4 linked regions of the Homo sapiens genome follow. The protein of the gene in region 2 purifies or fractionates together with the protein of the main gene of each other region. This does not show direct contact. Each region holds a gene or a part of one and is shown on either strand. Other genes may lie near its edges. The genes, in order: ARHGAP23, SAPCD1, CTNNA2 and ARHGAP21.

Region 1 (7,024 bases), on a different chromosome or scaffold from region 2:
CTATTCTGGGCCTTGTATTCATCAATCCCTTAAGAGGCCAAGCTGGTTCATGCCTCCTTGCCTGTGCTAATGCTTGGTCCCTCTGCCTGGCACACCCTTCTCTCCCTTCTCCTCCATCCCTTTCTTGCCCCAACAAACATCTTTTTTTTTTTTTTTTTTTTGAGACGGAGTCTCACTCTGTCACCAGGCTGGAGTGTGCAGTGGCATGATCTTGGCTCGCTGCAACTTCCACCTCCCAGGTTCAAGTGATTCTCCTGCCTCAGCCCCCCAAGTAGCTGGGACTAAAGGCGCATGCCACCACGCCCAGCTAATTTTTGTATTTTTAGTAGAGATGGGGTTTCACCATGTTGGCCAGGACGGTCTCGATCTCTTGCCCTCGTGATTTGCCCACCTTGGCCCCCAAAAGTGCTGGGATGACAGGCGTGAGCCACCGTGCCTGGCCCTAGCAAACATCTTTCAAGCTTTGGCAAGCCTCATCTCCCCACAGTGAAGCCTTCTTCCCCTGAGAGCTGGACCATCTTTGGAGGAGGCAGGGGCTCAGCCATGTTTATTGACAGAACCCTGGGGTCCCCCACGCCACTCACGAGCAAATCCAGACTCCACACTGAATCACAGAAGACACAGAGAAGCAGAACTTAATCTACATCTCTCTGCACCCACCACCCATTACATCTGCCCTCCCCCCCCTTCGTTATGCCAACCTTTGCTTGGATTTCAGGGCTCAGCTGTGGAAAAGAGGGTCTAACTTCCCTGGGTGAGGGGTGTCCTCCCAGGCTCCTTGTTGTCAGAGAATACAGCAGTCACCACAATGACAGACCTAGGATTCTGAAAGACCCAGCTTTAATATTTTTTGGGGGGGGTAGGGGTGGGTAGGGTCTTGCTCTGTTGTCCAGGCTGGAGTGCAGCAGTGCAATCATAGCTCACTGTAGCCTCAAACTCCTGAGTCCAAGCAATATTCCCAGCTCAGCCTCCCGAGTAGCTGGGACTACAGGTGTGCACCACCACACCTGGCTAATTTTTTAGAGACAGGGTCTTGCTATGTTGCCCATGTTGGTCTCAAATTGATCTTTGGTTCATGCCTGTAATCCCAATACTTTGGGAGACCAAGGCAGGAGGATCACTTGAGCTCAGGAGTTCAAGACCAGCCTAGGCAATATAGGGAGACCCCCATCGCTACAAAAAAATTAGCCAAGCATGGTGGTGTGTGCCTGATTGTGCCACTGCACTCCAGCCTGGGTGACAGAGCAAAACCCTCTCTCAAAAAAAAAAAAAAATCCTGGCGTCAAGCAATCCTCCTGTCGAAGCTTCCCAAGTCTCTGGGATTACAGATGTGAGCCACCATGCCTGGCCCAGCTTGAAATTTGATGCTTGGTGACCTTGAGTGAAGTTATTTGCCCACTCCAGGTCTCAGTCGTTGCATCTGTAATTATACACCCCCTTTATGACGGCACTTGAAAATCGATCAAAAAGGATTTCACTATAGAATCCTCAGGTTAATGATAGATTTGGAAACAGATGAGAGAAAGGAGATTAATCATATCACCAACTGGTTTTTAACCAATCCCTGTGGCAATTCTACCCAGCTTCCGGCTTCCAGTTTTAAACTCCCGTTATCGCCTTTGTGACCACACTCACTTTCCAACGATTACCATGGTGAAGACATTGGCTTGTGTAGGCTGCAGGTCCATCACCCCAGTCAGACTGGGCCGTTTTTACATTAATATTTTTGGCAGGGGGCCCCTGAGGGGTGTTCTGGACTGATCGATGGGCTGGATGCAAATCTTAGAACTCATGGTTCTACAGTCTTTGTGGAGACTTTTTGTCTGGCTTTTGGGCGGTAGGAAAAGCAGACAAGGAGGCCCTTGAGAGCAGGGTTGTTTCTCATTCATCCAGGTCCCAAGAGAGAGCCTGGAACGCAGAGCACGAGCAACCAGTGATCACCACTGACAGTGGGTTCGATTCGGCTCCAGCCCACTGGCGGACTTTCCCAAGCCCTGGGCCTCCCATGCTGGGATCAGGGCCTTCTCCTGCCCCCGGCTGAAATTACGGAGAGGGCAGGAGGGGCACTCTCCTCAGCGTTTTTTTTGGGGGGGTAGGGGTAGCTGAGGGGAATATCCTCAGCATCCCCAGACCACATCCCGTCTCTCAGATAAGGCTTTCCCTAGCACTGGGGGTACCTAGGCCTCTGGGCCACTGGAGAAGAAAAAGCTCCCAGTGGGGAAGGAAGAGGGGCTGTTTCTCCCTCATGTTGGCAACCCCAGCCTGGTTGTGTGGTCCCCATTTTCTGCCTCCTACCCTCTCCTCTTGCAAACATCCCCCCGACCATCTCCTGGGCTCTGGACCCAACCTCAGCTGTCCCCCTCGCCTTCCTTGAAACGTCTAGGTGCTGTGTGGGAGGGGCACAGTGCCAAGGCTTCATTAGAGCTAATGAAGCTCAGCTCTGTGATGCCAGTGCAAGATAACAGTGCGCAGACAGCCTCCATTGCAGCCTGGGGCCTCCGCCCCCTCCTCCACCTCTCTTGGGGAGGAGCCCAGGGCCACACCTCCAGAAGAGGAAAGGGAGATTTATAAGAATCTTCCCAGGCCAGGCACGGTGGCTCACGCCTGTAATCCCAACACTTTGGAAGGCTGAGGCGGGCGGATCACCTGAGGTCAGGAGTTTGAGACCAGCCTGACCAACATGGTGAACGCCCATCTCTACTAAAAATACAAAAAAATTAGCCGGGCATGGTAGAGGGCGCCTGTAATCCCAACTACTCGGGAGGCAGAGGCAGGAGAATCTCTTGAACCCGGGAGAGGTTGCAGTGAGCCGAGATCGCGCCATTGCACCCCAGCCTGGGTGACAAAGCGAGACTCTGTCTCGAAAACAACAACAACAAAAAATTTTCCCCAGTACAGAGACTGCCGTGAGGCCAAGGAGAGATCGGGTTCCAGGGCAAGAAGTACAAACAGCATCAGATTCGGGGGCAAGGTTCTCCCTTGGGCTGCCAAAGGCTCCCCTGTGCATTGCTCAGTCCAAAAGCCTGGGGTGCCCCTTTCTACTTGGACCTTGGGAACTCACCAGCAGGAACCACTCCTTCCTCTCCCTCTTTTCATGGAATCACCGCAGGTCAGAGCTGAAGGGACTCTGGGCACTTCTCTACAACCCTCTTATGACAACTCAACAACCTGAGGCCCCTTCCTCCTCCCACTTGGCATCCATCCTCTCAAGCAATCCTCCTGTCTCAGCCTCCCGAGTAGCTGAGACTACAGGTGTGAGCCACCATAGTCCCTACAGTTCCAACCACACAGGGCTGGCTTCCTTCCACTCTTGCTGGTCCCTTCCTCTCTGCTCTATCCCCTTGGCCTGTCCCTTCTCTAGGCCTCAGTTTCCCCATGAGGCAAATGGAGAGACAGGGAAGGAGGGTGGCCTCTGATATTCCTCCAGCTGAAGCAAAGGAAGATGTCCCCTCTCTGGGTAGCTTTCCTCCTCCTTCTGTCCCTTTTCAGGAACAATACAGAGTTCCTCCACCTTGAGCATAAGGGAGACTCTATGCGGGAGGTGGGGGTGTCCCCTCCAGCCTCTCCTTCCAGCCTTCGGGGGCTCTCAGAAGCAGGAAAAGCTCTGGATTGCCCAGGTCCCCACCTCTCCCTCCTCCCAAGAGCTCTGAGTCTGGCGTCCACACCCGATTCTTTCCAAGCTCTCACACTTTTGGGGAAATTAAAAAGGAAGAAGCAGCTGTTGATACAGGAGCACAGAGCCAGACAGAAGTCAGATAGGAGACAGAAACACTCTCGGGCCAGAATGAACTCGGCCCCTGCCTAGGTGCACCCCCACTTGGGGCTAAGGCCCCTTGCGTGGTTGTCCTCCCACATGGCTCCCACGCGGTCTCCCAGCCCACCACATTCCTCCGGCCCACACACCTCCGACCAACCTCCACACCCCAAGAGGCCAAGGCCGGGTCTGTTTCTATCCCTCAGGCCTCGGCCCTTGGGTCTCAGTCATCCCCACGCCCCGCCCCATGCTGTCTCTCCTCCCAGGGATTCAGGCCGAGCTTTGAAAGGGTCACTTCAAAGAGGACCTGCCTTCCGAGGGCCTAGCCAGACCCAGGGCCAGCTCCTCGGCCAGATTCCCAGCGGTTGGGGACAAAGGCCCCACTGTTCCCCGACCCCCGGACGCCCCCAAATGCACTGGGCATAAGAAGTCTTTCTTTCCCCAGTTCCGCTCCTTACGGGCCCGGGCTCCTTGCCACCGGGAGTAGCCCTGGCTCCTCCTCCAGGAGAAGCTGGGGGGTTGGCGGGACAGGGAATTACTAGTTTCCCCACTGCCACCACCATACACCCAAACCCCTTGGGCACCCAGGATGATGACAAAATCCAGCCAGGCGCGGTGGCTCACGCTTGTAATCCCAGCACTTCGGGAGGCCAAGGCAAGTGGATCACCTGAGGTCAGGAGTTCGAGACCAGCCTGGCCAACATGCCAGCCAACATGCCGAAACCTTGTCTCTAAAAAAATAAAAAAAATTAGCCAGGTGTAGTGGCACACCTGTAATCCCAGCAGCCCAGGAGACTGAGGCACGAGGATGATGACGCAACCCCGGGGCCAACCTCAGGACCAGTGGCCCAGGCTCCTCTCTGTCCCTCGGCCACCAAGCCCTTCCTGGGCCTAGAATACAATCCCACATTTTCCCACCTATCAGAACCATACCCACCCTTGCAGGCCTCCTCCAGGCAGCCTCTCAGGACTACCTATCCTCTGGGGAGCCTCACAGTCCAAACCATAGCAGCCAACCCCTGATGTTCCCAGAGGCTGGGGACATCTCTGCCTGCTCTCCTCAATGCCCCACAGTAGGAAGTAGGATTCACCTGCTCCTCTAATTTCCTATCATATAGTGCTGATCCCAAGGCAGGGCCCTTAAAGTTTCCTGTGCCAAGCCTTTGCTGAATTCTCTCTAGTGCACATCATTCTCCAGCCTGTGCTTGCCCAGACCTCACTGCACCTCCAGTGATGGGGGCCTCATTACCTCCAGAGGCAGGTCACTTTCTCTTTAGATTGCTCTGACCATAAAGGTCAGTACTTTTTACTGAGGCAAAAGTGCATTGTTCTCATTTCTATCCATTGATTTTTTTTAATAATAGTTGCTACCAATAATTGAGATTACTAAATCTCAGCCACTTTACCAATACTACCTCATTTAGCCCTCTCTGTAATTTTGAGGGATTATTTCAGGGATAAGAAAACCAGCCAGGTGTGGTGGCTCACACCTGTAATCCCCGCACTTTGGGAGGCCAAAGTGGGAGGATCACTTGAGTCCAGGAATTTTGAGACCAGCCTGGGCAACATGGCAAAACCCTGTCTCTATAAAAAATACAAAATGGAAAAATTAGCTGGGCATGGTGGCATGCACCTGTAGTCTCAACTACTCAGGAGGCTGAGGAGGGAGGCTCACTTGATCCCAGGAGTTCAAGGCTGCAGTGTACCAAGCTCACACCACTGCACTTCAGCCTGAGCAACAGAACAAGACCCTGCCTCAAAAGAATAAAAGAAAGCCGAGGCTAAAACAATGAAGTAACTTGTCCAAGGGCACACAGTGAACAAGGAGTACATCTAAAATTTGGACCTCAGCAGGCTGAAGGCAGGCAGAGCTTTTTTGTTTCGTTTGGTTTGGTTTTTTGAGACAGGGTCTCATTATGTTGCCCAGGCTGGAGTGCAGTGGTGCAATCACAGCTCACTGCAGACTCGAACCCCCCAGCTCAAGTGATTTTCCCACTTCCACCACCCGAGTAGCTGGGACTACATGCCCAGCTAATTTTTTTTTTTTTTAAGACTACATTTTGCTCTTGTCACTCAGACTAGAATGCAATGGCGTGATCTTGGCTCATTGCAATCTCCCTCTCCCAGGTTCAAGCGATTCTCCTGCCTCAGGCTCCCAAGTAGCTGGGACTACAGGTGTGTGTCACTTCACCCAGCTAATTTTGTAATTTTAGTAGGGACAGTGTTTCACCATGTTGGCCAGGCTGGTCTCAAACTCCTGACCTCAGGTGATCCACCCGCCTTGGCCTCCCAAAGTGCTGGGATTACAGGTGTCAGCCACTGCTCCTGGCCCCAGCTAATTTTTAAAATTTTTCTGTAGGTATTGGGTCTCCTTGTGTCACCCAGGCTGGTCTCAAACTCCTGAGTCCAAGTGATCCTCCTACCTTGGCCTCCCAAAGTGCTGGGATTACAGGTGTGAGCCACTGTACCCGGCCTGTGTCAGTTTCTTAATCTGTCAAGTGGGGTGATGGTAATATACCAACATAGTGGTAAGCACTATGGAAGAAGTTGCTATTATCATTTTTCTCGGCCTCAAATAACTCCTACCTGGTAGGGTAGACGGATATGAGATGGAACATCACAGTGTCAGGGGTAGAGCTGGGCATGGGGCGCCCTGGGGGGCCACAGGCGGGGCTGTTCCCTGGTTTGTACTTCACAAACATTTATGGAGAACTGCTCTGTGCCAGGCTCTGTGCTGGCCACTGGGGACACAGAGATGAACAGGATACATTGTCCACTCATCCCTGCAGCTCCCTGCCCTCCCCTCTCCCTCTTGGAGCCCAGTCCATGAACCCTGCACTGAGGGGGGCCACGAAGGACAGAACCAACCACAGAGGGAAAGGCATGGCCTGGGAGCTGGGAGTCAGAAGATGGGTCCTTGTCTGCCGAGGCTGAGGGACCTTGGGCACTCCCCAGTCTGTTTCCCCACTGTAGCGTAACAGAGTTGGACACGATCACCCCTTTGGTCCTCACCCACTCTGACAGGTGGTAAATACACCCCAACCCAAAAGGGCTTTAAAATCTCCCCAAAGTCCAGCCCCAAGGCCATCTCAGCCTGATGTCCCACTGAGGCAATGGGGGAGGAGACACCCACCTGGCACAGATTGGTACTGCCCTGCTGACAAACTGGCACAATTTCACAAGAAACAGGGGGGCCTGGATCTGAAGGCGGGTTGTTTGAAGCGGGTGGAGGGTGCTAGGGGAAAGGCAGCACCAGCTCCCACAGGCCCT
Region 2 (7,679 bases):
CGATTCTCCTGCCTCAGCCTCCCAAGTAGCTGGGATCACAGGTGCCCGCCACCACGCCCGGCTAATTTTTTGTATTTTTAGTAGAGACAGGGTTTCACTATGTTGGCCAGGCTGGTCTCAAACTCCTGACCTCAGGTGATCTGCCTGCCTCGGCCTCCCAAAGTGCTGGGATTACAGGCGTGAGCCACCGTGCCCAGCCAATGAAGGTTTTCTTTCTCCATCACATCCCTTTCCTTTCTTAGAAACTTCGAGACTGGGGCTGGGTGCAGTGGCTCACGCCTGTAATCCCAGCACTCTGGGAGGCTGAGGCAGGAGGATCACTTGAGCCCAGGAGGTTGAGGCTGCAGTGAGTTGTGGTCGAACCACTGCACTACAGCCTGAGCGACAGTGAGACCCTATCTCAGAAACAAAACAAAACAAAACACCCTGCAAGACTGGGATAGAGGGCAATGGATATTCCCACAATGCACTTTTCCTAACCCTATGAGAAACAAACCAAAGACATTTTTGGAGAAAGCTGCTTTCTGGAGCAGTTTCAGTTTTATTTTTGTATTTAAGGCTGAAGGACAGTTTCAATAAACATGCTTCTTCCCAGAGGGATTTCAAAGAAAGATCGTTTTTGCATGTCATATAGGGGAGAATGAGGACATGAGACACCAAGAAGATGAAGTTTTCAGGAGCAGAGGAGAAACTTTACACCAACATGTCTGAACTTCATTGACTCACTACCTGGAGCCATTTTTTAGCTGTTGAGTTAAGAAACAGAAAAAGGAGCCTGGGGCTTCTGACTCTTTCACCAGGCTTAGGGGAGTGAGAGGAGGGTTTAGACACGGGTAGGGCCTCTTGGCCCCTTGGTGCAGCCCCGCTGAGCCATCTCCTCCTTTGGCTGGGTGACTCCTTTCTGCTGCCTTGACAACTCCTGGAGGAGAAACAGATGGGGCCTCTGGGCTCCTCCCAGCCCTGTAGGGTGGGGCTCCTGCCCTCCTTCTTGAAGTTTACCTGTTGCTGCCACAAGTTCTGCTCCCTTCGTCTTTCCTTTGAATCCTGGGTGGTGCAGGAACTAGCCTTGTTCAGTGGACTTGGGGAGAACTGGAGGGGAAATTCGCTGTGTTTTCTGTTAAGCCAGCACTGACCCCAACAACTCCCCTCTCTAGTCCAACTTCCCAAAAGTCTAAACTGAAAACAATAAACTCACCTTCTCATGAATCAGATTCTGCAAACAGATGTTCACCTTTTGAATCTGGGCTAACGGGGGGCGACCAGGCTCTGAGTGTAAATCTGTTAGAAAATTCTAGAGGAGGAGTTGGAGGCTGACAACATGGTGAAAACCTGAGGTCGTCTGCCACTCTATTCCTGTCACCACAGGCCATCCCTCTCATCTGGATCCCCTCGTCCCAGTACCCTCCCAGGCAGGTGGGAAAATCCAGTACTCTCCACCTCCATCTCTTTAGCACATCAGTTCCTCCATCTCCCTCAAATAGCACAATACCCCCTTTCACTACTCTTCATGGAGCCTCCCTGTCCATCCCTGCCCCATTGGAATAATCCAGGCCACACCCTCATCTCCATGGAGTGATCCAAATCCCTCTGAATGGAATGCAGACCAGCTTCCTCCAGCCCCAACAATGAACACCAACTTAACACTTGGTGGCATCCTGTCATTACGATGCTGCCTCCAACTCATGATCCCTGACCATTAACTCTCCCCTCTCCAGAGTGGTCTCAGGCTGTGTCTACACATTCCCTGTTCCTCCCTCCCTGGTCCTCCCCCCATTCACACAGAGGGGCAGCCCCCATACCTCACCAAGGGCCCCTAGATGCAGCTGCTGTCGCTGTGCCTCCCTCAGATGGTCTTCAAACCAGGCCTGGCCATGCTGTAGCAGCTCCAGACCCTGCCACAGGGCATCCTGTTCTCTCTCCAGAGCCTGCATCCTGCGTAGCTGGGAAAGGCAATCACAGAGGCTGACTCTCACGCCACAGTAGGGCTCTGGGTTATGGCCCTTTCTCTCCACCCCTAGTTGGGTTCACTGTGTGGTCACTGAGTGTGAACCCAGACTGGCCACTGAGGACCTGGAGGGCAAGGGGAGGCAGGCGGGAACACTGTGGGCCCTCAAGTTGAATGGAAATATAAAGGGCAGATCTATTGAGAGAGTTCCCCTGGGACCTCTTGTTGGGCTGATACTCACCCAAAGGAAGAAGCTCTGGGCCCCTGGGTCTTGGCGGCTTGTCCCCAGCGGCAGCAGCAGGACTGTGTAGGGAGCCTGCACCAAGGGCACCCCGCCAGAGCCCTGGCTCCCCATGGCTCTGAGGTGGGAAGGGTGGAGCCACTCCCACTGGTGCAGCCCGGGCTGGTCCCTCCCCTCCACCCCTGCCTTGCACCCATCCTGCCTCTGTCAGCCTCTCAGGCCCCTTCCTGCTGTGTCTGTCTGAGGCTGGGGTGTTCCTACTTGAGAAGAGAGACCATCTCCCTTGGACCCCTCTGTCTTCCCTCTAATCTGTTTTGTAGGGCCTCTCTGAAGGGGTTCGTTCTCATGAAGTATCCTGGGGTAGAATCCGGGAGTCTTCCTACAGCAACAACACTGTATTTTTACTGAGGCAGGGCAGGTTCCCCTGTGGACTCCTGCTCTGTGTTTTGGATCTTTCCTAGTCTCTTGTTTTGAGACTAAAGAAACAATATCTTTCTTCAAAATAAACTTTATTCCTAATATGAAACAAAATTTCTAGAGAAACTAAAAACTCTGCGTCTGAGGGAGATAAGGAAACAAAGAGGGCATGGCAGCCCACCGGAGTCTCAGGAGGCTGGGGAGGACACTGGAAGGACTCTCAGAGGATGCTGGTGGCAGCAGGCAGCACTTCCTGGCTCATGAAAACGTTCAAGTCCAGGTTAGGATCTTCCAAATCCAGTTTCATAAACTTATCCACTAATGTCTGGCAACTGAAGAAGAGAGAAAATCGCAAGATTTATGGCAGAATGGACAACCAAATCCCTGGGCAGAGGGGAGAGGCTGTGGCACAGAAAACCTGGGATCTTGAAGATTTAGGGATTTCAGAAAGAAATGGTGGGTTTCTGAAGGGCAAAGTGCTGGAGGAAGGCTGAGTCCCTGAAAAGGGGAGAAGAGTTGCAGGAGAAGATGCAGAGAGGGTAAAGACACTGGGGCCATATACGCACTTTTCCATTTGGTTCTTCTTTAGCAAATCCTTGACAGGCTTGATGGGTTTTCCACTGCGGATCAAGTCTGAGACCTAGGAACAAGCAAGAAGGTGGGAGGAGTAAGGGGAGTGGGGAAGAGAAGGGGAAATAAGGGTCAGAAATCCTGTGGACCTAGACCCAGGCCCAGTAGGACTAGGAATGAAAGGGAGCTCTGATGTGGAGGTGGTTGCACATTTGGATCTCATCACCTCCTTGCCACGAGCCACAAGCTTGTCAGGAAGCCCAGCCTGGGCAGCTGTGTGGGAGGCATGGCTGGCCTTCGCAACACCTTCGCAAACCTGATAGAAGAAGACAAGATCGTTGCCATCCTCACAGGTCTCCATGGTCTTAAAAGAGAATAAAAGACAGTGTATCATCAATCACCTCCTTCCTGTCCTGAAACCCTTGGCCAATCCTGTGGGGAGGGAGAAAAGGGAAGGGATGTGGTCTCTGTGCTGAGGGAGCCCTTGTTCTGATAGAGGAGCCAATCCCCACCTCTGGGAAATGCCCAGCCTGGGGGTCCCCGAGGAGCTAGATTGGTCTCCTCACCAAATACTGCACCAGGGGCCCTTGTGGCAGCAGTTGTAGCTGAACAAGGCTCAGAAAGTTGGTGGCCACAAAGATGTGGGGGCATGTGGGTCCACGTGCCAGCCAGTGTCGGAGCACAGCGGCCAGAAGCGCGAGCCCATCCACCTGCAAAGAGGGCAGAGGTTAGCATTCGGAGCCATGGGGACCCCATATGCCCCTCTGCACTTGCACTGCCTTTCCCTGTCTCGTGTTCTATTTCTTTTCTGCCCACACAGCCCTATTCCATTCCAGAGGCCCAGCCTCACTGTCATGCTCCTTCATCCTCCTCCATTTTCCCCTCCTTAGTTTCTCCCCTCATCAGTTTCTCCCCTCACCGTGTTGGTTCCCTTTCCAAATTCATCAATAAGGACCAGCGACTGTGCAGTGGCATTGTTCACTGCTTTCGCCACCTGCTGGGTATAAGGTGGACAAGGGAAAGTTAGTATTGGAAGCCCGTAACGCACTGACCACAGTTGGCCTGTGAATAAAGCTGTATACATGCCCTCCCTACTGCACTGCAAGTTCTTGAATGGTGAGGTGCACGCTTTGTTCATCCTCTTTGCCAACAGTGACTCACATGAAACAAGGGTTCAAGAAATGTTTATGGTATTGATTCTTCTTATCTCTGACCTTAGTGCTCCCCACTTTTAGTATAAAGGGCATGCAGCAGAGGGCATGCTTTCCTGTTATGAGCATTTTCAGGGGTTCCTTTCCCATTATCCCCTTCCTCAATCCCACCTCCCTTTGTTCCCTTTGACCTGGTTGAGGTCGATCATGAAGGTGGAGAGGCCAAGGGAGATGGATTCGCAGCTATGAATTCGTGTGAAGATGGCGTCTACTGCCCCAATTTCGGCCTCCTCTGCTGGCACAAAGCTGCCTACCAGGGCCATGAATGTGATCAAGCCTACCTGAATAGGGAAGGAGACAGGGCCTGGGGCCTGGTGCCGTGGGCTGAGGTGAAAGTGAGGCTCAAGGCATGAATGGCACATCAAAGAGAAATGGACAGGGTGAAACAGGAGAAATAGGTAACAGACACACTGACTCTGTCTCTCCTCCCCGAATCCTGACCATAGCCCTGTGGGCTAATTTAGAATCAGTGAAGAGGCACGGGACGTGGGCAGAGACATACTTGGGAGTGGTGTGTACCTACTCAGAGGCAGGTGAAGGAATTTGGGCCACGGAAAGTTCCATTAGAGCATGGCTCTCCAGTGGAGAATAAGAACATGTGAGGTGGAAGCACAGGGATGTGGGTGATGGTCCTTTCATGAAGAGCGGGGTCAGAAAATGGGAGAAGAGCTGCAGGAGCCTGAGTTGGCTGGCAAGTAGGGGTGGAGTAGATGCAGGAGACGCCAGAGGCCCAGGCTGCAGGGCTTCTCCTCACCTGTTTGAGGTATATGCTCTTCCCTGATGAGTTGGGTCCAGTGATGACTTTGACCCTCCCTTTGTCCCCACCACATTCTGTGGAGTTGGGCACAAAGGTTCGGGCACAGAGTTCCATCAGAGGATGTCTGCAGTGGGCGGAGAGGCACCTCGCATGGCTTGTGGATCAAGATAGATGAACCCCCAGAAGATGTAGCCTTTGGGCCCCTCATGTCTATTCCTCCACCCGCCTCTATTCTTACCTGCCATTCTGGATTCGTACCCCAAGGACTTGTGGGGAGTAACGCGGCCTTGAGTAGCCATAGTCCCGGGCAGCACTGGCAAGAGCCAGCAGGACGTCCAGGCGGGAGGCAAGGTCCAATACTCGGGTTAAGACAGCTGCTCGTGCCAGCACCTGGCACTGTAGCTGGTACATCAGCAGCGTCTCCTGGTCTGGGAGTGGGTGAGGAAGGGAGCTGGAGGTCAGTTCCAGGGGAAAGTGAAGGAGAGGCAGAGGCCCCTAGGGGGATCTGGAAACAGGTTGCAGATACAATCTGAGACCTCAAGACATTCAGAGGAAAAGATAGAGTCAGAGTGAGCGAGACAGAGAGCAGGAAGAGGAGGGGCCTGTTGGAAGCATCCCCAAGTTGCCCACTCCCCTCCTTCCCCTGGCTGCTGCTTTTTTTAAACATCTTACAATGCATATAACCTCTGGCTTTTCCTCACCCCGGATCTCGCAGTGCAGGTCCCCCAGCAATGCATCCAGCTCCTTGGTTCGGGCACTACGATAGTGCAGCTTCTCCTCTGAGAGAAACTGGGTACAGGGGTTCAAAGCTGTGGACTTTGCATCTCTTGGTCCTCCTCTCCTTCCCCATCTTTCTAACCCCACCTCCAGCCCCTAACTCTGACTTCTCTTTCCTTTGTCTCAGTGCTGGTAAAGCTCAGAGTAAAACTACAGAGGAGAGATCCCATATTGGGCAGTGCTGCTGTAGAGTAACGCTCTTCCTCAGCTGCTGACTCATTTTCCTCATCACTCACCTTACAGAGGTTGAGGGTCTTACCATGAAGTCCAGTCCATTAATCTCAAAGTCACTGGCCTCTACCATGGAAGGCAGGCGGGGAATAGAAAGAAGGAAGCCAATCTGGGGAGAGTAAAGAGGAGATACTCTACTCTCCTGCTTGGAGACTTACTGGACACCTCCCCACCCTAGAGGGAGCTTAAAAGATCCCTGTATCCCCACAAAAAAGTGTTCATGTTCTTCAGGCTGCCCCACAAGTTTTCTTATCTACCAGTATGTCTTTCATAAGCCTAATATCTCCCCCAAAAGACATCTGAAGGCTACACCCACTCTCCTGCCCTCACCAGAGGGATGTAGATGACACTGCATGAAGGAATACGGGAGTCCAGATTCTCCAGCTCCTTGCGGGCAACCTCAGTAAGGAAACTGGGAAGTCCCATCAGTCTTCGCTTTTCTACGAGGGTGGAAGACACGTGGTTATCAAAAGTGAGTCTCCTGCCCTGGTTGCTATGAAGATCCCCAGCTGTGGTGACCACCTGCCAAGGATGGTACTCCATCACTGCGCAGGGCTCACAGGCCCATCCACACCCAACACTCACTCTCATCAATTTCAGGATCTATGTTGGGGAGGACTGTGAAGCGATTTTCAGCAAGGCTGCCCTCAAAGTCCACCTGAGGAGATAAGTACTGTTTCTTAGGACCTGGCACCCTCTGTCCTGTTCCTCAGCTCTCCTTGGGCCCCAATTCTCCCTGCAGTCCTCCTTTAACTCTCACCCTCCAGATACTTCCCTGAAGTTCTGCTGCCTCCTCCCACCATCCCATTCTTTATCCAATTGACCTCAATATCTTCCATGTTTCCCCATCTTGCACACTGCATTCTCTCTCCCTGACCTCCCTGGGTGCACTCCCTTTTTCCTTCTACTCACTACTTTCCCAATGAGGCTGGCGATATGGTGCAGGTCATCAGAGAACTCTTGGGCAATGTCCCGAAAGAGCTGGATGGACTGCGGCAGGGAGCGGCAGGCATCCCTCAGGCCCAGGGCACTGTACACAGTCTGTGAGAGAAACACAAAAAGGAGGACAGGCCACATCCAGCTCGGGTTGAGGTGGTGATAGGGACAGACTCAGAAGAACAAAGACCAGTAGGGAAGATCACAGTAACAAAGAGGGAAGATCTCAAAGGCAAAAAGAAACAGTGAGAGGCACTGTACCAAACACTGAAACTACAAAGACAATTAAGATATGGTCCTGGCCAGGCACAGTGGCTCATGCCTGTAATCCCAGCACTTTGGGAGGCTGAGGTGGGTAGATCACCTGAGGTCAGGAGTTCGAGATCAGCCTCACCAACATGGTGAAACCCTGTCTCTACTCAAAATACAAAAATTAACTGGGCTTGGTGGCATGCACATGTAATTCCAGCTACTTGGGAGGCTGAGGCAGGAGAATCTCTTGAACCCGGGAGGTGGAGGTTATAGCCAGATCACGCCATTGCACTCCAGCCTGGCCGACAGAGCGAGACTCTGTCTCAAAACAAAACAAATAAA
Region 3 (7,024 bases), on a different chromosome or scaffold from region 2:
TAGATGCAGAAAAGGCCTTTGATAAAATTCAACATCGCTTCACATTAAAAACTCTCAATAAACTAAGTATTGATGGAACATACCTCAAAATAACAAGAGTTATTCATGACAAACCCACAACCAATATCATATTGAATGGGCAAAAGCAAGAAGCATTCCCTTTGGAAACCAATACATAACAAAACTGCCCTCTCTCACCACTCCTGTTCAATATAGTATTAGAAATTCTGGACAGGGCAATCAGGTAAGATAAAGAAATAAAGCATATTCAAATAGGAAGATAGGAAGTCAAATTTTCTCTGTTTGCAGACAACATGATTGTATATCAAGAAAACCCCATCATGTCAGCCCAGAAACTCCCTAAACTGATAAGCAACTTCAGCAAAGTCTCAGGATACAAAATCAATGTGCAAAAATCACAAGCATTCCTTTACATCAATAACAGACAAGCAGAGAGCCAAATCATGAATGAACTCCCATTCACAATAGCTACAAAGATAATAAAATACCTAGGAATACAGCTAACAAGGATGTGAAGGACCTCTTCAAGGAGAACTACAAACCACTGCTCAAGGAATTAAGAGAGGACACAAAAAAATGGAAAAACATTCCAACCTCATGGATAGGAAGAATCAGCATTGTGAAAATGGCCATACTGCCCAGAGTAATTTATAGAATAAATGCTACTTCCATCAAACTACCATTGACATTCTTCACAGAATTAGAAAAAGAAACTACTTTAAATTTCATATGGAATTAAAGAAGACCCCGTATAGCCAAGACAATCCTAAGCAAAAAGAACAAAGCTAGAGGCATCATGCTACCTGACTTCAAACTAAACTACAAGGCTACAGTAACCAAAACAGCATGGTACTGGTCCCAAAACAGACAGACCAACGGAACAGAAGAGAGACCTCAGAAATAACACCACACATCTACAACCATCTGATCTTTGACAAATCTGACAAAAACAAGCAATGGGGAAATAATCTCCTATTAAATAAATAGTGCTGGAAAACTGGCTAGTCATAGGCAGAAAACTAAAACTGGACCCCTTCCTTACACCTTATGCAAAAACTAACTCAAGATGTATTAAAGACTTAAATGTAAAACCCAAAACCATAAAAACCCTAGAAGAAAACCTAGGCAATACCATTCAGGAAATAGGCATGGGCAAAGACTTCATGATGAAAACACCAAAAGCAATTGCAACAAAAGCCAAAATTGACAAATGGTATCTAACCAAACTAAAGAGCTTCTGCACAGCAAAAGAATCATCAGAGTGAACAGGCAATCTACGGAATGGGAGAAAATTTTTACAATCGACTCATCTGACAAAAGTCTAATATTCAGAATTTACAAGGAACTTAAATTTACAAAAACAAACAACCCCATCCAAAAGTGGAGAAAGGATATGAACAGACACTTCTCAAAAGAAGATGTTTACATGGCCAACAAACATGAAAAAAAGCTCAACATCACTCATCATTAGACAAATGCAAATCAAAACCACAATGAGATACCATCTCAGGCCAGTCAGAATGGCAATTATTAAAAAGTCAAGAATAGATAGATGCTATAGATGCAATTGGTGCTAGCAAGGCTGTGGAGAAACAGGTACGCTTTTACACTGTTGGTGGGAATGTAAATTAGTTCAGCTATTGTGGAAGACAGTATGGCAATTCCTTACAGATCTAGAACCAGAAATACCATTAGACCCAGCAATCCCATTATTGGGTATATACACAAAGGAATATAAGTCTTTCTACCGTAAAGCCACATCCACATGTATGTTTACTGCAGCACTATTTACAATGGCAAAGTTATGGAACCAACCCAAATGCCCACCAATGATAGACTGGATAAAGAAAATGTGCTACATATACACCATGGAATACTATGCAGCCATAAGAAGGAATAATATCATGTCCTTTGCAGGGACGTGGATGAAGCTGGAAGCCATCATCCTCAGCAAACTAACACAGGAACAGAACACCAAACACCACATGTTCTCATTCCTAAGTGGGAGTTGAACAATGAGAACACATGGACACAGGGAGGGGAACAACACACACCAGGGACTGTTGCGGGGTGGGGGCAAGGGAAGGGAACTTAGTGGATGGGTCAATAGGTGCAGCAAATCACCATGGCACATGTAAACCTAGATAACAAACCTGCACATTTTGCACGTGTATCCTGGAACTTAAAGTAAAATTTTTAAAAAATAAATTTTAGGGCAAACTAGCTGTGCTGTCTATGAAAATATATTTTGCATTTTTATGGTTCCTTTTACTTCAGCATTTCAAAGACGTTAAACTTATTTAAATTTTCACTATATGAGAAAGGTATTATACCAAGTATCAGTAAGAGATTTTGCCAGAAAAGTAAACCACAGGAAGTTTGAGTGAGTTTTTCACCCAATGAAATATCAATTTGTTTAATATCTGAGAATAGCATTTAGGACTCATGACAGATGTCCATGAATTCAAAATCAATTTCAAGTTAGCATGCCTAAGAAATTTTTAAAAAAACAGTATTCATCATACAACTATGGAACAGAAATTTATAATTTAGTCATAAAATAAAGAGAAACGGTATATTATTTTAATGAGAAAATTTCAAGTATCATTAACTACTGTCTAGGTTTGCTGATGTCAGAAGTGATGGAAAATCTACAGCAGGTGAATCACATTACAGTCTGTAAATTCAATACTAATTTACTAGCATTACTACTTTTGAGAAAGTGCTGAAATTAAATTGCATTTGTTAAATGACAATTGTTAGGGAACCACATCAAATGGAATTATTGTTTCAAAACTGCAATTCAGACAGCCTCCACATTTTGATTTTTGTTGACCTCCAAGAAGTAAAATGTTGACCATTAGATAACGCTTTATGTAATTCTCATAGCTTGAGAAACAGTATACATTTAATAAGAATATATTACCTCATTAATATACTTAGCTAATATAAAATATAATTTTTTCATTCATATATAATATACTGAGTTAATATTATAAGTAATATAATTAGTTAATATAGAAGTTTAAAGTTAATAAAATATAGTTAGTGACTTATTTACCATATTATACTTTATATTTTAATTTTTCCAACTGTTTCAAATATATCATGTTTTATAAAAAACATGTTTGATGGTTATATTCATGTGTTAAATTTCCAAAGCCTTATTTGTCCAGCATGAGGAGATATCACTTCAGGAAAAACAACAACAACAAAAAAAAAACCTTGAACATTCAACATGTTGACATACTTTGCTAATAGATTTTCCCCACATGACCTCAAGTTTGATTTTTATGAATGAAAGCCTTTTGCACTGTTGCACTGACGCATCGGTTGTTACATTAATTGGGGATAAAAGGTGCTTTTAATGAAAATCGTCTGGAAACAAAAGGCAGCATGGGGAAGCAGCAGTTGTCACACTCTTGGACAGAAGGTGGCAGCAGCTGAAGTTCCTGGACTGTTCACAGGCCTTCTCTCTGTGCTTCATATTTTCACTCTTAACCAGCTCCTCACTTAGGTTTTGTTGTTTATTTTTGATTATAAAATAAATTATAACTAGAATAATGTAATTGTGTCAAAATCTGACTAAATAATCCATTCTTAACTAATTTTAATAAACACCAATTTATAAAATAATTTTGTATTTGAGATTGCCTATGATTTTTATTCTTTCATGGATGAGTCCATTTGTGTTTCAATACACACCTTTAAAATTAATGTAGCATTACAATGTTTTAATATCTGTGTGTATGACCTGCTCATTTACTTTTCCCTGAAATATGGGCTCATTCATTCTTTATTCTAGAATATAAAAAAAGACAAACAAACAAAAATCCTTTATCACTCCTCTGTCAAGTTCCAAAAGAATCCTCTTAGAATTTGTATTGAGATTGCTTCAACATTATGAAAACTGATAGGATCAATAGTTCTCCTACTCAAGATCATGATATCATTTACTGACAAGTAAAACTTGTCCCTCAATAAAGTAATATAATTTGACTTTTTAGGTCCTTCACATCTATATTAGACTTATTTCTAGCAGATATAAGAAATAATAAAATAAAATTAACTTTTTAAAAATTATTTGTTTTGTGAATATCTCCTCGTTATTCTACTTTATTTTACATGATGAAAATCTAGAGATTTTTGTATATTTATGTTATATAAAGTAAACATTATTTTGAACTCTCATTATTTTCTATGAATTTTCAGTTGCTCGCTGCAATTTTGTGAATAAAATTACCTATTATTAAGTCTTCATTTCTGTAGCAAGTGCTTTAAATATATTATCATATTTAATCCTCACAAAAAAAACCTTAGGAAATAATATATGGTGTGAGATACATATAACTAACTGTAAAAATATGGGAAAGAGGAGAGACCACTATGAAAATGGTAAGAACTATTTGAGTATGAACTGTTAAAATTATTCCTCAGTTATATCATCCATCTCCAAGCCTTGAACAATCATTGCTTTGCTCCTGGACCTTTTTTTCCAGCTGCTAACTAGTTATTTCTTGCCAAAAATTCACATCAACATATTCAAAAGCAAGCTCATCATCTTTCTTCATGACCATTAAGTAACCTATTTTTCTTCTATGAATTCCTGTAACATTGTGTTTTATCAATTAAATGGTGTTTAGTGCATTCTACTTCCCTCATCTCCCCTGCAGGGTTATTTAACCCTGGAAAGTAGATGCTAATTATTTATAAATCTTTGTAGGCTTTCATTGATCATAAGATAAATAAATTCCAACTTCTCACAGGTCCTCTGACCCGGGGGGAATGGGGGCTGTCATCCCGGGGTGCTGATGACATGCGTGCAACCTTCTCACTCACACTGATGCTTCACATATGGCTCAGCACAGTGAACAATCCTCCTTGCTTCTTCCCTCACCAGGACACACCTACAGAAACAGCCAGTGTAGAATGTAGGACTTTCAGAGAACTAACACAGGCTCTCCCCAGAGGGTCTGTTCTAATGAAGACCAGGGTCCTGTGTGGGATCATAGGGCAATGTACTTTATCACTGATTTAAAACAAAGAAATTGATGGCAGCTTTTCACGCAGGCACAACATAGAGGCAACGTACATCTAGGCTGCCCATAACATGTGCCCCTTTAATAATAAAGATGATCGTCAAATTATGAACTGTCCCTAAAATAGCCTGTAAGTTATCTCATCTACCTGGAAGGGATTGGGCACTCTTAAATACAGTTGTTTCTTCTTTTTTCCCCGAGACGGAGTTTTGCTGTTGTTGCCCAGGCTGGAGTGCAATGGCACGATCTCGGCTCACCGCAATCTCCGCCTCCCGAGTTTAAGCGATTCTCCTGCCGCAGCCTCCCGAGTAGCTGGGATTACAGGCATGCGCCACCACGCCCAGCTAATGTTTTACATTTTTAGTAGAGACGGGGTTTCTCCATGTTCGAACTCATGACCTCAGGTGATCCACCCACCTCGGCCTCCCAAAGTTCTGGGATTACAGGGGTGAGCCACCGCAGCCACAGTTGTTTCTTTAAAGACAAGTGATAATGGCTTAGCCAATATATTACAGAAATGCATTATGTAGTTTATCTTACTATTAAAACCTCCAAAAGAGAAAAATCAATGTAAATTATTGTAGTGGCCCTTCATCCTCAATACATTTTTTTTTTTTGTCAACACCAGTGCCCACCCCTCTGTGTACCTCACCAGGATGCTTACGTCAAACTCATTAAGAGCCGCAGCCAGCTCGCCGATGCCCGTGTGGCCCTTGGCTTCGTCAGTGGGCGAGGTAGCTTGAGCAGCATTGGAGATGCCGGCGATGGCCTCCTGGACTTGTTTGAACACATAATCTCGGTTGGCTCTCGTAGCGGCGACATCTGGGTGGCGGAGAAATGCTTGAGAGGCCGTGTACAGCATTGTGGCATTCTTCTTCAGAGCCCCTCGGGCGGCTGCCATCTCATCCCGACAGTGAGGATCCTTCAGCTCCTGTGTGTGTAACACATGAAAGCTGTCACACACATGAAATTTGCATAGAAATATTTGCAACACAGTTTGGAGTCACAGACTCTTAGTAACACACTGAACTTCAGAAACCCTTGTGCTGTTTCTAGCTGCCAGGCCTTTGCATATACTCTTTTGTTTGTTTGTCTGTTTTATAGAGACAGCTAGGTCTCTATAGTGACCTAGGTTGGAGTACAGTGGTGTTATCAAAGCTCACTGCAGCCTCCATCTCCTGGGCCCAAGTGATCCTCCCTCTTCAACCTCTTAAGTGGCTAGAACTACAGGTGCATGCTTCCACACCAGGCTAGTTAAAAAAAAAAAAGTTGTGGAAGTGGGGTCTGGCTATGTTGCCCAGGTGGGCCTTGAACTCCTGGCCTCAAGGGATTCTCCCACCTCTGCTTCCCAAAGTGCTGGAATGACAGCCATGAGCAACCACACCTGGCCTACTGTCCCTTCTATGTGAAATGCCTGAGCTTTCCTCCTCTGCCCTACCCTTTCACCTGACAGGGCTCCACTGACTTGGCACATCCTCCACCCAACTTTCTAAGCTGTGTCCCCTTTCATCTGTTCCCACAAGACACTCTTCCTCTCCTATCACTAACACTTCCTACTTTACTGTATTTTTTGAGCATATATTTCTCTTCTATAACGTACCTCTAATGACAGCAGGGAGCCCTAGTTTTCTTATTCAGTGGCTCTTTAGTCATTAGCAAAGTGGCTGGCCTATAAGAGGCATTCAATAAAATATTGCTGAGATAATATAAAAACCAAGCCACCAAGAAGGTAAATTGATTGCATGGGCCATACAGTTAGTTATGAACAGACAGAAAACCTGAAAACGTCAGTCTTCTGAGGCCCTACTTGCCTCCATATTCAATTACTGTTACAAATGGGAAACCAAACTTCTGATTTTTGCTCAACACATCAGTGTCCCTTAATTATCATTTTCAGAATAGGGTTCCTGCTTTGTTGTTGTTGACAGCCTCTAATGGCAGCTCATCATTAAGTTTAGAGAACA
Region 4 (7,024 bases), on a different chromosome or scaffold from region 2:
TATCCAGATTAAAGAGTGAAAAAAAAAACCATTTATAAATAGATTTTTCTACATTAAAAAAAGTATTCCTTAAAAAAATTCTAATTATTGCATTAATTTGGTACTTTTTGTCCTGTGTATCAGCTACATGTAGAATATATTGTCTTACGTTTTGGCAATGTAAAAAGGAAATCTAAGTATTTAAAAAGGAACTCTGCTTTTCTTATTAGTTTATTAGCAATGGGTTATTCCGTTGTCCTTTAGGAAGTGGCAAATCAGTTTTAAATTTTTATGTCTCTTTTCTTAGTTTATTTTAAATTACCTTTATAACTTTGTTTCATTTTATTTTAAAAATATTAAGTTAAACAAATATAAAAATATCAATATATGCATCCAGTAGATTTCAACAGAAAAAGACTTTGCCATAAAAATTTTCTATAATATTTGGACAGCTTATATATAAGAACATTTTAATGCTGTCAGAAGAGTTTAAAAATTTTAAGAAAGCTCACTTTGGATGTGGATAGAGTTGCTTAGCCATATAAAGTTGATGAACTCTGTTAATTAGTTATGTATACAATTGTTGGAGAACTCCTGCAGTATCTGTCATTTGTGTGCTCTAAGACGTAAGTCTTTCACTCAACAGGTTTTTTGGACCGATTTTTAAATTTTCTATTCCGTTACTGTTTTTGATATGTTTTGCTACATTTATTTTATTTGATTAGCTTTGTTCATATTGCCTTCCCAACTAAAGTTGGGATTTCACAGTCCTTGACTTTGATATGAATACACTGCCTAACTCAGTTTATGCTCCACAATTTTTATCCTTCCTCTCCTCACAAATAATGTAGTGAGCTAAATCTGCCACCTGCTACACTAGTTATATGTAAATGCAGAGGAAGGGTGTTGCTTAATGTGCTTATCCTGTCACAAAGATTTAGCCAAATATTGACTATTAAAGAACTGTCGCATGTTTTCTAGCGAGTTGGTGGAAGTATTCGGCCATGGAAACAGATGTATGTTGTCCTTCGGGGTCATTCACTTTACCTGTACAAAGATAAAAGAGAGCAGACGACTCCGTCTGAGGAAGAGCAGCCCATCAGTGTTAATGCTTGCTTGATAGACATCTCTTACAGTGAGACCAAGAGGAAAAATGTGTTTCGACTCACCACGTCCGACTGTGAATGCCTGTTTCAGGCTGAAGACAGAGATGATATGCTAGCTTGGATCAAGACGATCCAGGAGAGCAGCAACCTAAACGAAGAGGTGGGTGTTCAAAGGAATGCTGGAGAAATCTGACCCTTTCACAACACTTTCTTACAAAGATCTAAGGAATATGATATATCATTTTTATAAAAAAATTATAATGTGCTATTTTCATGTAAAACAGTTGATGAAAAGGAAAACTCAAACATACCTGTTTTATATTATTTTCACACATTGGAAAATCACCATCACTGAACTAGAAAAATAGGTTATTTATATATGCTGTATACCTTCTCAGAAGCAATGAACTACATTCCTAGTCCTGGTTGTTTGTGACCAAGTTATTCCAGATCCATTTCCATCTTTCAAAGACAGGATTGTTGTAGGGCTTAAGTTACAGTAAAAATACTTACCAGTATAAATAACTATATAAATGCAGAGTGATACTGATGATTTTTGTTAAGAGAACTATACAGTCAAGAATATGGAATAGCCTACTGTCACACAATAGTTAGTTTCTAAGAAAACTTGCATTTTCAAAAATCATAAGTCAGCTTTTTTTTTTTTTTTTTTGAAACGAAGTCCTGCTCTGTTGCCCAGGCTGGAGTGCAGTGGCGCGATCTTGGCTCACTGCAAGCCCTGCCTCCCGGGTTCACACCATTCTCCTGCCTTAGCTTCCCCTGTAGCTGGGATGACAGGCAGCCGTCACCATGCCCGGCTAATTTTTTGTATTTTTAGTAGTGATGGGGTTTCACCGTGTTAGCCAGGATGGTCTCTATCTCCTGACCTTGTGATCTGCCCGCCTCGGCCTCCCAAAGTGCTGGCATTACAGGCGTGAGCCACCGCGCCCGGCCCAGCATTTCTTTTTCATGCAGAACAGTGTTTAGGGATTTGAGAATTTACAGCTTATGATCATCAAGGTATTTTCACAGTAGGAATTTCAATAGTAAAGATAGTTTTTAAAGTATGTATAACTATAAACTTTATCAAGCAAATCTAGCAATGATGAAGTAGCAGTTGCTCAAGTATTTTCTTATCATTAACACAGTTTTTTCTTCACTGTGTTCTCACTTTTCATGCCTATTTATTATAACCAAAAAAGGGGCACGAAGTTCTCTTTTAATACTCAGGAATGCCTACATTAAATGTAAACTTATGCAAATTATGTTCTAATTTAGTCATTTCCATTATATCCAATTCAAAGTATTAAAACGTTACACCATAGGAAAAGTGTGCTTTTTTTCCTTTGGTAGTTTACACTCTGCCTTGTTTGTGGTTAAAAATAACACCAGATCTTTATCAGTGCAACCTATGTTGTACAACTACCCGCTATACAGAGGGCATCAGACCTGAATTTTTGCAAAATAAACAGGGAGAATAAGAACTTAGATGTGGATTTCAGCTTTAAGTAATAGTTCAGAGGAGTTCTGTGTAACAGGCACCTACTATGTGTCAGGCATTCTCTCAGGCAGTAGACTGTCATTGTTAAAACTCCTTCAGATGACTTGTTCTGTGACACATAGTGGCTGTTTGGAGGATTGAATGAGATAATGCATGTGAAGAATGCCTGCCAAGTAATAAACATTTACTTAATGTGAGCTATTAGCATCACCATCTAATCTTAAGACACAGGTACACAAGTATTTTCCCCAGTTTTATAGATGAGAAAACAATAATTCACTGAGCACATACCATATGGCAGATACTATTTTAAACATACTACATGCATTAATCTCAGCAACCATATGAATGTGTCCTATTATCATCACCACCATTCTAAAAATAAGGAAACAGTGGCAAAGAGAGGCTAAATAATTTCCCTAAGGTCACACAGTGACTTAAGCATCAGGGGTAGGATTTAAATCCAGGCAGTCTTATTCTAGATCTTAATCATATGATCTCTCAGCTGATAAGTTGGAAGAGTCTATTTAAATTCAAGATAACTTACTCCCGTATTTAAAGACTGTATTCTTTGTAAACTGTATCATCATTCACTATCATCAAAATGAGGCAAGTTAAAAAAAATTGAGAACCCCAGTCAATATCAATGTATAATTGGAATGAATAGGAAAAAAAGGATCACTTTATGGTCAACTCTGGGTTTACCATATAGCATTTCATACAAGGTAACTCACAGAGGTTAAAAAAAAATCATGCAAATTTTGAGCTTTTCTCTTATCTTCTGATAATGTAACTGCCGCTTGTGATACTAGTTGATCCTTGGTTTCACTATCCTTAAAAATTAGTCAGTCACTAACAAATTCTGGCAGTCTGTTTTCATCTTTTATCCACCTATATTATTTGTTTTTCTTTTTGAAGAAAAATCACTTACACGTATATTTCTTAAATGCTGATCATTCTTTCTGGTATTAGAGAAAACACTGGCTGCTTCCTAGTCATTTATTTTAAATGGACGGATCAATTCAATAAGTATTGAACACATGTTACTTGCTGGTACTATCCTAGGTATCGCATGGATACAGAAAAGAAGCAAAACCCTTTGGCAATGTTGGGAGGCACTTGGAAAATCTTTCACACAGTGATGTTGAATAGAAGCTTTGAAACAGCTCCACTGAGAACAGATGATAGTAGTGTTTGTGTTAAATAAGCAAAGCAGTACAATAGAAAGCCTCAAAAAAGTAAGGATCACTTATTTATGTTTAGAATTGATTTTCTAATTTTACTTTATTCTGTAGGACACTGGAGTCACTAACAGGGATCTAATTAGTCGAAGAATAAAAGAATACAACAATCTGATGAGGTGAGAATCCCACCTTGCCTGCAGTTAATTTGGATATAAAATCAGTACAGTCATCCCCCTTATTTGCAAGGATACATTCCAAGACCCCCAGTGGATGCTTGAAACCGCAGATAGTACCAAATCCTCTCTACGCTATATTTTTTCCCATATAGTAATGGGCGGGTAGTGTATACAGTGTGGCTACTCGGGATGAAAGGATGATTCTTATTCTGGGCAGGACTACAAAATTGAAAGCTTATGAATTGTTTATTCCAAGAATTTTCCAGTTAATATTTTCAGACCATGGCTCACCACGGGTAACTGAAACCATAGATAGAGGGGGATTACTGTAATTGTTAACAAATGTCATTTCCTTCAACAGCAAAGCAGAACAGTTGCCAAAAACACCTCGCCAGAGTCTCAGCATCAGGCAAACTTTGCTTGGTGCTAAATCAGAGCCAAAGACTCAAAGCCCACACTCTCCGAAGGAAGAGTCGGAAAGGAAACTTCTCAGTAAAGGTATTGATGTTAGCTTTCTAACAAATAAATATAATGATTTAAAATTGGCATCGTTGAGGTACGTTTATGTTTTCTGTACCATTTCTACTGACCAGGCCCCATGTCAACTAGCTCAAAATTCATAGTAGGCTTGGTCTGGGCTCATTGGGCCTTTCCCTTTGTGAGGCCCAAGACACCAGCTTCATTATAAAGCGAAAGTGAGGGAAAATACAAACAATACTTAAATCAGAGACATTACAAATTTAAATGACTCCGAGGATTCAGGTCCTATCATTTTGAAATAAAACTATTACTTTTCCCTTTGTTGAAGTCTCACTATAAAGATGACACACTGATTCTATGTAGTTTTTTTTTTTGCTGTTTTAAAGAAAATTATAGCACGCATTATAAAAGAATGAAGTAAAAGTTATATGGAAGAGAACATATTTTTGTTAAATATAGGATGTATTATTTATATTACAGGACTTGGATTTATGTAAACATTGATAAAGTGTTTTTAAAGTCATGATTTAGACACTCATTTCCATTTTATTATGTTGTTTTATTTTGACTGGCAATCAAAAGATGATACCAGTCCCCCAAAAGACAAAGGCACATGGAGAAAAGGCATTCCAAGTATCATGAGAAAGACATTTGAGAAAAAGCCAACTGCTACAGGAACTTTCGGCGTCCGACTAGATGACTGCCCACCAGCTCATACTAATCGGGTAGGAGACACCAGCCCACCGGATTTCCTCAAGTCATTAATTCAGTTTTGATTATAATGGGATCTGAGTATATAGCCTTTCAGACAACAGAGACTGTCAATCTGTTTTCCTTTTCATAGCAGACCTTAGTTTCCCTAAGTATTTCTGACCTGTAATGCTTTTTTTCTAATGTATTGACTCCGAAATTGAATAATTATTCAACCATTAGGAATTTGTCTGAAATGGTCTGTAAGAATTCGTCTTCAAATCGTGTGTTTCTGCTTTTAGCATTTTAAAACAAGGATGAGAACAAGGACCTGATTAAGAAAGTATAATACATGTAAATGTATGTGCATATATTTAAAACACCCATGCTAGGATTCGTATCATGAATTGATATTACTCTCTCCTCCTCTTTTCTTGACTCTTTATTCAGCGGAACGGTTTCCACATTCTCTTTACCTGTTGTTACTTCCTTTTTAGAATGTTATCTCTCTGGGGGTCCCTCTCTTTCTTTCAGTCTCTTTGTTCTCTTCTTACTGTCTCAAATATCTCTTGCAGGTTTTATCTATTCCCAGATCTATAATGTCTGTATTCTTTATATTACATAACAGCAATTTATGTTTCCTTTTGGATGAAAGGGGCATTTTAGCTGTGATATACAACTACTAAACATTTGTGCTGCATTAAATAAAATGTTTATTTCTTGTTTTGCAGTATATTCCATTAATAGTTGACATATGTTGCAAATTAGTTGAAGAAAGAGGTCTTGAATATACAGGTATTTATAGAGTTCCTGGAAATAATGCAGCCATCTCAAGTATGCAAGAAGAACTCAACAAGGGAATGGCTGATATTGATATACAAGATGATGTAAGTTTGCTTATTTGAATAACTGATCCTTTTTTTTCCCCCTTTGGTGGAACTGGATATGAAAATACTATATTTCTATTTTGTACACCTAGAAATGGCGAGATTTGAATGTGATAAGCAGTTTACTAAAATCCTTCTTCAGAAAACTCCCTGAGCCTCTCTTCACAAATGGTGAGTTAACTCCCGTGAAAGATACCAGATGAAATGGTTCAAGTTACAATTGGAAAACCATAGAATATTAAATTGAACAAGGACAAAATGTCTTGGTCAAAGGAAGCAGGAGGCTTTATTTAGTTCTCCCTCATATATTAAAAACATAAAAGTTATTTAGGTTCAGTGAAATATGTATTATCTTGTTCATACATGTTTGCAGCCAAATTAATATTATTGTTTCCAGTCAAATGGCTTCTGACATCATAAGGTACAATGAGTAGAAAAATGTTTTTTCAGTCAAGCCAAGTATTTAAGTGCCATGTAAGACACTTTACTAGATGTTGTTGGAGGGTGGGGGAGGAATGGACAGGCTGTGTAAATATAGGATGGTTCCTGCAGGGAACTTACATTTTAGAAATTTACATTTCAAAACTATTAGAACTCTTTCCTATGTTGTGGTTTAAAATTGATCCTTAAAGGGAAACTAGATTACAATTCACCTAGGCAATTTAAGATAAATTTGTTTTATTGTTCTTGTCGTCAGATAAATATGCTGATTTTATTGAAGCCAATCGTAAAGAAGATCCTCTAGATCGTCTGAAAACATTAAAAAGACTAGTAGGTATTATTTTATATTTTGGGGGATACAACTAAAATTCAGCCTCTGAATCCATTGTGAAAATAATCTGTTTCAGATTCACGATTTGCCTGAACATCATTATGAAACACTTAAGTTCCTTTCAGCTCATCTGAAGACAGTGGCAGAAAATTCAGAAAAAAATAAGGTATGTAAAATGCTTATTGAAGAAATGTACTTTTAGTGGCTTTAGTTTAAAAGATATGCTTCATTACTTCATGCCAAATAGTC

Evidence for each region.
Region 1: the proteins of SAPCD1 (region 2) and ARHGAP23 purify together in Homo sapiens (affinity purification with mass spectrometry; 3 studies listed by BioGRID and IntAct, with this or other methods). This does not show direct contact.
Region 3: the proteins of SAPCD1 (region 2) and CTNNA2 purify together in Homo sapiens (affinity purification with mass spectrometry; 3 studies listed by BioGRID and IntAct, with this or other methods). This does not show direct contact.
Region 4: the proteins of SAPCD1 (region 2) and ARHGAP21 purify together in Homo sapiens (affinity purification with mass spectrometry; 3 studies listed by BioGRID and IntAct, with this or other methods). This does not show direct contact.

The regions. Positions count from the first base shown.
Region 1 is NC_000017.11:38,431,459-38,438,482, reverse strand, and holds part of ARHGAP23 (rho GTPase-activating protein 23), read right to left. Parts: intron 1-7,024.
Region 2 is NC_000006.12:31,757,676-31,765,354, reverse strand, and holds SAPCD1 (suppressor APC domain-containing protein 1), read right to left. Parts: upstream 2,700-7,679; 5' UTR 2,301-2,699; coding exon 2,187-2,300; intron 1,941-2,186; coding exon 1,800-1,940; intron 1,292-1,799; coding exon 1,196-1,291; exon of another isoform or gene 1,090-1,195; coding exon 1,000-1,089; exon of another isoform or gene 920-999; coding exon 824-919; 3' UTR 505-823; downstream 1-504. Other genes in the region: MSH5 (mutS protein homolog 5), read right to left, coding at 2,824-2,935, 3,170-3,243, 3,400-3,537, 3,740-3,883, 4,093-4,170, 4,516-4,665, 5,139-5,265, 5,380-5,569 and 5 more.
Region 3 is NC_000002.12:79,873,043-79,880,066, reverse strand, and holds part of CTNNA2 (catenin alpha-2), read right to left. Parts: intron 5,992-7,024; coding exon 5,725-5,991; intron 1-5,724. UniProt on the Homo sapiens protein: May function as a linker between cadherin adhesion receptors and the cytoskeleton to regulate cell-cell adhesion and differentiation in the nervous system. Required for proper regulation of cortical neuronal migration and neurite growth.
Region 4 is NC_000010.11:24,594,867-24,601,890, reverse strand, and holds part of ARHGAP21 (rho GTPase-activating protein 21), read left to right. Parts: intron 1-960; coding exon 961-1,245; intron 1,246-3,881; coding exon 3,882-3,946; intron 3,947-4,307; coding exon 4,308-4,444; intron 4,445-5,008; coding exon 5,009-5,151; intron 5,152-5,847; coding exon 5,848-6,003; intron 6,004-6,095; coding exon 6,096-6,174; intron 6,175-6,700; coding exon 6,701-6,774; intron 6,775-6,851; coding exon 6,852-6,941; intron 6,942-7,024. UniProt on the Homo sapiens protein: Functions as a GTPase-activating protein (GAP) for RHOA and CDC42. Downstream partner of ARF1 which may control Golgi apparatus structure and function. Also required for CTNNA1 recruitment to adherens junctions.